Homo sapiens: one gene and its partner. The protein of the gene in region 2 purifies or fractionates together with the protein of the main gene of each other region. This does not show direct contact. Each region holds a gene or a part of one and is shown on either strand. Other genes may lie near its edges. The genes, in order: KANSL2 and PPIL2.

Region 1 (3,813 bases), on a different chromosome or scaffold from region 2:
TAAATATTTGTTTGCCTTGTACTATCTTCTGTTTCTTTAGAGTAGTGGTTTTCAACTGGGGGCCATTTTGTTTTCCAGTTGGCAATGTGTGGAGAAATTTTTGGTTGTTACAACTCAGATGGAGGTGCTACTGACAGCTAGTGGATAGAGGCCAGGAATGCTGCTATACATCCTTCTTCCAACAAAGATGTACCTGGCCTACAGTGTTGGTAGTGCCACAGTTGTCACACCCTGCTTGAGAGTTTAGTTATTTCCAAGTATGCATTGAAAGAAATAGCTTTATTCAAGGAAGTTCATATGGTTTTAAAAATTATAATGTATGTTAGTTTTTTTATTTAAAAAAATTACCATAAAAGTTTTGAGTTGAAAATTATAACTCCATAATTCAGGTACTATCAGTTTAAGAAAAATTGTGTTTTCTGGTTAAAAATAAGTCAAATTTTAAAATAATGTTTATTAATCTAGGAAGATAACCAGGTAGTTAACAGATTTCAAGAAATGGTAGCACTTGCATAAAATGTGTTTTGTAAAGTAACTTGAATTTTATTGTATCTAATCATCTCAATTTTGGTTCATCCTACAGAGCTTCTTTGCTAACTTGGAAATATAGCCCTTTTCTTCTTCTACCTTTAACAAAAGTTGTTAATAGAGTCCTTGGAATGTTTCTAGAATACTTTTTTTTTTCAATGGGCCTTCATACACAAAATTTTCTTCTTCCTTTAGGATCATAAAAGGATTCCTCTGTACTAGCACACTCCCCTAAAAAAAAAAGGCATGTATATTTAATTTCTTGTTAGGATATGATACCTAGTGACTTTTACTAGAGCTCTGTTTCCCCCTATTCCAGTGGTGCTTTAAATGAATTTATCATGTAATCATCTTTGGAAACGAGGTCCAAGAAATTGTTGCAAACTTTGCCAGTCTGCTAAGGGAGCAGAGACATTGTATCGCTTGACTCTTTTGGAAGGGCTGTTTAGGGGCATTTTCAAGGCTATTTGCATTTGCCACTACATGTTTCTTCTGAATATGTGTGTGTTCCTAGGAGTGTTACTGCTACTTGCTTAAGGGAGAATGGGATGGTGTCTAGTTTAAATGACCAGGATCCTGAAAAGGAGGTTGGGGACAAGTTTTAAATTACTGGTAGAGCTAGAATTTGATGCTAGTAAATGACATTTATTTTGAGAAGTAACTTTAAAAATTGCTAACTGCATTTGGTATTCTGTATCAAATGTAGTTGTAATTTATCTTATATAGTCCACACCTTGAGTTTTATGTGGCAGACAATGCTATTTGTATTTTATGCTTTCGATAGATTGTGTTTTATTTCCCTTGACCATTTTTCTACAGATATTTGTCAGGATACGAATCAGGTTCTCTTCAAGTGCTGCCAGGGATCTGAAGAGGTACCCTGCAACAAACCTGTTCCTGTAAGCCTCTCTGAGGATCCCTGCTGCCCACTGCATTTCCAGTTGCCTCCTCAGATGTATAAGCCCGAGCAGGTACTGTCTGTGCCAGACGATCTGGAAGCCGGCCCCATGGATCTGTACTTGAGTGCTGCTGAGCTTCAGCCCACTGAGAGTTTACCTCTGGAGTTCAGTGATGTAAGTTAGAGAAGCTCTGCTTTGGTTCAGGCCCTTGAGACAAAGCCTTATTTATTAATGGTGAGAATAGGTTAGTCTTTGTGGTTAGGAGAATCGACAAAGTTTTTGAAGTGATATATACGTATAGTTGTATTTATATGTTAGCATATTCATTTAGAGAAATCTACCCTACCTTATATTTTTTTCCAGACTCTTCCCATACCTTTTTAGGGATACAATTTACATACTATAAATTGCACTCTTTGAAAGTGTATAATTGAGTGATTTTTAGTATATTCGCAAAGTTACGCAACTACCACCACTATCTAATTTCAGAAGGTTTTCACCATCTCCAAAAGAAACTCAGTACCTATTATGACACTCTTCATTTTCTTCTCCCCTCAGCCCCTGGCCACGATGAATCTACTTTTTGTCTCTGATTTTGCTTATTCTGGACATTTCATATCAATGTAATAGTATATGTATCCTTTTGTGTCTTGCTTGTTTCACTTAGCATAATGTTTTCAAGGTTTATCCATACTATAATATGTATCAATACTTCATTCCTTTTTGTGACTGAATTAATATTCCATTGTTTGGAAATACCACGCTTTAAAAATATATCAGTTGATGGATATTTGTGCTGTTTCTACTTTCTGGCTATTAAGGAATATACTGTTAAGAACTTTTGAGACAGAGTTTCTGTCGGTGGCATGAGCCACCACGCCCAGCTTAGTTATCATTTTTATAACTTTTTTTTTTTTAAATTGGGGTCTTGCTCTGTTGCTCAGGCTGGAGTGCAGTGGCATGATCATGGCTCCGTGCAGCCTCGAACTCCTGGGCTTAAGTGATCCTCCTGTCTCAGCCTCCCAAGTAGCTGGGACTATAGGTTTATGCCACCATGCCCAGCCAATTTTTTATTTTTTGTATAGATGAGATCTCCCTATGTTGCATGGGCTGGTCTTCAACTCCTAGGCTCAAGTGATCCTCTTACCTTGGCCTCAAGTGATCCTCTTACCTTGGCCTCCCAAAGTGCTGGGATTACAAGTGTGAACCACTGTGCCTGGCCACTATAACTTGGCTTTTTTTTTTTTAGACTGAGTCTTGTTCTGTTGTTCAAGCTGGAGTGCAGTGATGTGATCTCAGCTCACTGCAGCCTCTGCCTTCAGGGTTCAAGTGATTCTTGTGCTTCACCCTCCTGGGTAGCTGGGACTACAGGTGTGCGCCAGCAGGCCTTGCTGATTTTTGTATTTTTTGTAGAGACAGGGTTTCACCATGTTGGCCAGGCTGGTCTCTAACTCCTGGCCTCAAGTGACCCACCCACCTTGGCCTCCCAAAGTGCTGGGATTATAGGCATGATTCACCATTCCTGGCGTATAACTGTTAATGATAACTTTGGTGATTTTACTTGCGGGAAGACTAGGCATCAGATATTAATATGAGTAAAAACACAGCCGTTCATTCTGGATATTTGCTTGTTTTCTGTGCTTTGATGCAAGGATGGTTGGCAAGTAGTAACTTAACACCTTAATCTTACTACTTTTGAGTTCCTTCTCTCTCATTCTCTATTGCTGGTTTTGGAGATAGTAACAAAACGTGGATTCTCTTATTTTATCTTTATTTATTTTTTGAGACGGAGTCTTGGTCTGTCGCCCAGACTGGAGTGCAGTGGCACGATCTCGGCTCACTGCAACCTTCACCATCTGGGTTCAAGCAATTCTCCTGTTCCTGCCTCCCGAGTAGCTGGGATTACAGGTGTGTGCCACCATGTCTGGCTAATTTTTGTATTTTTTAGTAGAGATGGGGTTTCGCCATGTTGGCCAGGCTGGTCTCGATCTCCTAACCTCAGGTGATCCACTCCCCTCAGCTTCCCCAAAGTGCTGAGATTATAGACATGAGACATCGCGCCCAGCTGAAAACATGGATTCTCTTTATATCCTGATACTTCAATTTTTAAAACACTCCTGTTTTAATAGGCATTTTTGCTGATTTTCTTATTTTAGGATCCTTTTCCCAGTTTAAAATCTTATAAAAGACAACCCTTTGTATATATGAGAAAAGCCTTTTCTGAAAACATACACATTCCATTATTATCTTGAGATTTAGATGCCTTTTGATTCAGTGTTTAAATAATTCCAAGCTAGTCATTATTATTTTTGACAGAGTCTCGCTCTGTCACCTAGGCTGGAGTGCATTGGCGTGATCTCGGCTCACTGCACTGTCTGCCTCCTGG
Region 2 (3,813 bases):
ACCATTCCAGGCCACAAAGCCACAGCCAGCCCTGCTCGTAACATGCAGGGGCCACACCTGTCACAGCAAAACCTGCTGGAGCCAGTCCACACAACCGAGACCACGTGTGACAGTGAGCTGGCAGAAGGCCACGGCGAAGCCACGACAGGCCAGGGTTCACCCCAGAATGCCACGGAGACACCCATCCACTCTGGCCTTGTAGTGGCCACATCCACAAATCCCGGGAGGACCAGAAAAAGGACAGAATCATCATAGTAGATGCTAACAAAGAAACCTCTAAAAAGTCAGCCACCCTCCTAAAAACAGCCCAACAACAAATGTTCTGAGAAGGCAAAACAGCGATTTCTGTGGAGCACAGCAAGATGCCCACATCCTCCTCCCCCATCAGGCCCACGGTGACGTGACGGTGACGTGACTGATGTGCACACCAGGGAAGCAGAGAGCAGACCAGCTTTTGGTGATAAGCGTGACTATCTAGAAAACCCAAAAAAATCTTAAAAACTTTTGAATTATAAGATAATTTGTTAAAGTGGCTAGATATAAAATGAACGGTAGTTTTTCTCTACATGAGCAATGATCCCCAAAAGTTGGGAAAAAAAAAGTCCATTTACAAAAGTATCATAAACTATAAAAAATCCTTAAGAGGTTGCTTTATCCCGGAAGTCACAGGACCCATGTGAAGAAAACGATTGAAAGACTGAAACATAACATCAGGCCACTGTCTGGGGATGGAAAGGGCACCTCTGTTCTTCCACAATACAGGCATCCGGCCCCTGTGTGCATGGCCCTGCTGGCCCCCCATCCCCTGCCTCCTGCCACCAGACTGCACACTGCTCCCCACATGCACCAGGGCCAGACCTCCTGTGTCTCTCCAGGCGCCTCTCCCTGTGCAGCCTGTGCCCTGCACAACCCCTCCCACACGCTGACCTCCCCCAGCACTGCCTGGCCACAGGCACCCACACGAATGCCTGGTCCCTGTCAAGAAGCCCTTCTGGACCTCCAGTAATTCCCGACTTCTGGTCTCTCGAGGACACACCCGGTGCGGGCAGCTCTCCCTGCTGACTCACTCTGGGGACCCCCTTTTGAACGCAGGTGCACATGCTTGGCCTAGGTGTGCCGTACACCGTCTGGGTATGATTCAGAACCAGCACACCCTTCAGAGAGGGCCAAGAGGAAGAACCCGCAGAGAGTGCCGGCTCACCTCCCAGGCCACCCCAGCAAGCCCAGCTGACTCACAATTGAGACCTGTTGCTGTTGGGCCCGGAGTTGGCCATGCTGAGGATGCCGCGGCCCGTGTGCGAGAGGTTGGGCCGGAACTCGTCTTTGAAGGGCTTCCCCCAGTATGACTCCCCACCTGGAAGAGAAAGGCCCATGGGAGCAGGAAAGCCTGGGCCCCAGCCGAGGCAGAACTAGAAACCTCAGAGTCCCGAGGGGCATCAGGGCCTTGCTGAGCCCAGCCTGGGGCAGGGGCACTTGATAGGGAGGCTCCCAGCCCCACGCCACCAACTCCTGGGTCCCTTGGAGCCCCCACGCCTCCAAACAGGCAGGCTGCTGCCCACTCACCCCAGCCCCGCCTGGGGCCTGCCCCGGGACAGGGATTAAAGAGTCAAGGCCACCATCATCATCACTCAAGCTATGGGAATACAGAGGTTGGGGGATCTGGACCCAAGCAGCTGCCAGGCTGAGGGGCTTGGAGAGGCTGCAGGAGGGAGGGCTGGCCTCAGTCTGAGGCAGACCCCAGGGGCCCAGGGAAGAGACCACACACTCTTGCCTCCTCTACCATGCAGGCCTCACAGCCACCTGGAAATGAGAAAACTGAGGGCCAGGCCTGAGGGGGCACAGCACTGATGGCTGCCAGTCGTTCCACCCTGGTCTAGCAGATTCCATGTCTGAGCTGTGCACAACCCCTGCCCAGCTACCCCCTCATGCCCCACGGAGCAGCCAAAGTGCCCAGAGAGGGGCCCAGCACCAGTACCTACCCGTGCCTGTGCCTGTGGGGTCGCCCCCTTGGATCTGTGAAAACAAAAGCCAGTGAGCAAGTCACACTCTGAGACCCGAGGCCCACCGCCTGCCTGACTGAAGGACACCCCTCCTGCCAGATGGCTCCACACAGGGGCTGGGCTCTTGGTGATAATGAGGGGCCCTCCCAGCCACCTCCCTTTGTGAACCCAGTTCTGGATGGGCTGGGGCCTCAAGGGTCAGTCTATGGGTTCCCCAACAGAGGATCACCAACTGGACTCATCCTGGCCACCGTGGGATGGGCCAGGGCCCTGGGATGGGGCAGGGACAAGCCCACCCAGCCCCCGATGTCCCACCAAGCTCATCTGTGCAGCCAGTGACTCTCGTCACTCACCACAAAGTTCCGGATGGATCTGTGGAAGATGGTGCCATCGTAATAATGCTTCTTGCAAAGCCTGATGAAGTTTTCGCAGGTTTTTGGTGTCTGCAACATAGCCCCAATACTTGTATGAAGCAGAGAGCTGCCAAAGGCAGCTCACCACAGCCACAGGAGGCTTTTTTTTTTTTTTTTTTTTTGAGGTGGAGTCTTGCTGTTGCCCAGGCTGGAGTGCTGTGGCGCGATCTTGGCTCACTGCAACCTCCGCCTCCTAGGTTCAAGACATTCTCCTGCCTCAGCCTCCCGAGTAGCCAGGACTACAGGCATGCGCCACCATGCCTGGCTAATTTTTGTAGTTTTAGTAGAGACGGGTTTCCCCATGTTGGCCAGGCTGGTCTTTAACATGTAGCAGAGTCAGCTGCCCAGCCACACTGGGCACGGATGGACCCACAACATTAAGCAACAGGACCCGTGCAGCCGCACGGCCCAGAGTACAGCGCATGGGAGAAGTGTGGGCAGAGCAGCAGGTGCGGCTTGGCCCCTTCTCTGAGACACTGGCACCTGTGCGCAGGCCATGCTGCCAACGCGGCCCCCTAGGAAGGACACAGGGCACTGCTGCGGGTCCCGCCTAGTGACAGGCTGAATTTCCTACAACAAGCACATACCAGTGGCAGCCCTATATTTAAGACATGGCTGTCAGATGACCCAGAGATGACCTTGGGGCATGGGGAGTGGCTGGCCTCCACACCCACCAGGTCGCAGTGCAGCTCCAGGTTGAGGTCGCCCTTGTTGGTGTGCAGCCGCACGTAGCCCTTCTTCTTCACAAACTGGTAGCGCAGCACATCCTCGTCGATGGCAGCTACAAGCCAAGGTCCCAGCTCAGCCCCTGCCCTCACCCTGGGGCAGCCCCACCATGCCAGGCAGCACCGACCTCAGACACACAGGCGGGGACTAGGCTCCAGCTCTGGGGAGAGCAGGGGAGCTGGAGGCCGAGGGTCTGCTTAGGCCACGCACAGGCTCACCCCAGCCTCATGGGGCTGGCAGGGGTTCAGCAGCTAAGAGGGGGAGGACTAGGGGCTCAGGTGACAGTGGGAGCCCCTGACAGACCAATAAAGTGGGAGTCGGGGAGCACACCCACCCCCTGCCACTTTTGGGTCACATGGCAGGTGGCTACAGAGGCCAAGGTGGCTACCTGCTTCATGTGTGGTCTCCGGGACCATCGCGGTGGAGGTGAAGGAAGCGCTGACCTTCCCTGTGGAATAGTGGGCCTGCCAAGGAAACCAGGGTGGCACCTCAGCAGTGCCATGGGAGGCAGTTGGGTGGGGACGTGTCGCTTGCCTAGAAGCCAACCACACGCCACCCCTGCCCCCCAGGCCCTGCTTGGTGCCTCTCCTCCAGGAGGGCCTCCCCAACCAGCAGGAGGAAGAAGCCAAGGCTAGGCCAAGCCAGGGTCCCCTGGCCTCCACTGGATCCCGACT

Evidence for each region.
Region 1: the proteins of PPIL2 (region 2) and KANSL2 purify together in Homo sapiens (affinity purification with mass spectrometry; one large-scale study listed by BioGRID and IntAct). This does not show direct contact.

What each region holds. Positions count from the first base shown.
Region 1 is NC_000012.12:48,658,154-48,661,966, reverse strand, and holds part of KANSL2 (KAT8 regulatory NSL complex subunit 2), read left to right. Parts: intron 1-1,347; coding exon 1,348-1,601; intron 1,602-3,813. UniProt on the Homo sapiens protein: Non-catalytic component of the NSL histone acetyltransferase complex, a multiprotein complex that mediates histone H4 acetylation at 'Lys-5'- and 'Lys-8' (H4K5ac and H4K8ac) at transcription start sites and promotes transcription initiation.
Region 2 is NC_000022.11:21,686,273-21,690,085, reverse strand, and holds part of PPIL2 (RING-type E3 ubiquitin-protein ligase PPIL2), read right to left. Parts: intron 3,604-3,813; coding exon 3,528-3,603; intron 3,195-3,527; coding exon 3,088-3,194; intron 2,444-3,087; coding exon 2,354-2,443; intron 2,014-2,353; coding exon 1,980-2,013; intron 1,355-1,979; coding exon 1,237-1,354; intron 1-1,236. UniProt on the Homo sapiens protein: Has a ubiquitin-protein ligase activity acting as an E3 ubiquitin protein ligase or as an ubiquitin-ubiquitin ligase promoting elongation of ubiquitin chains on substrates.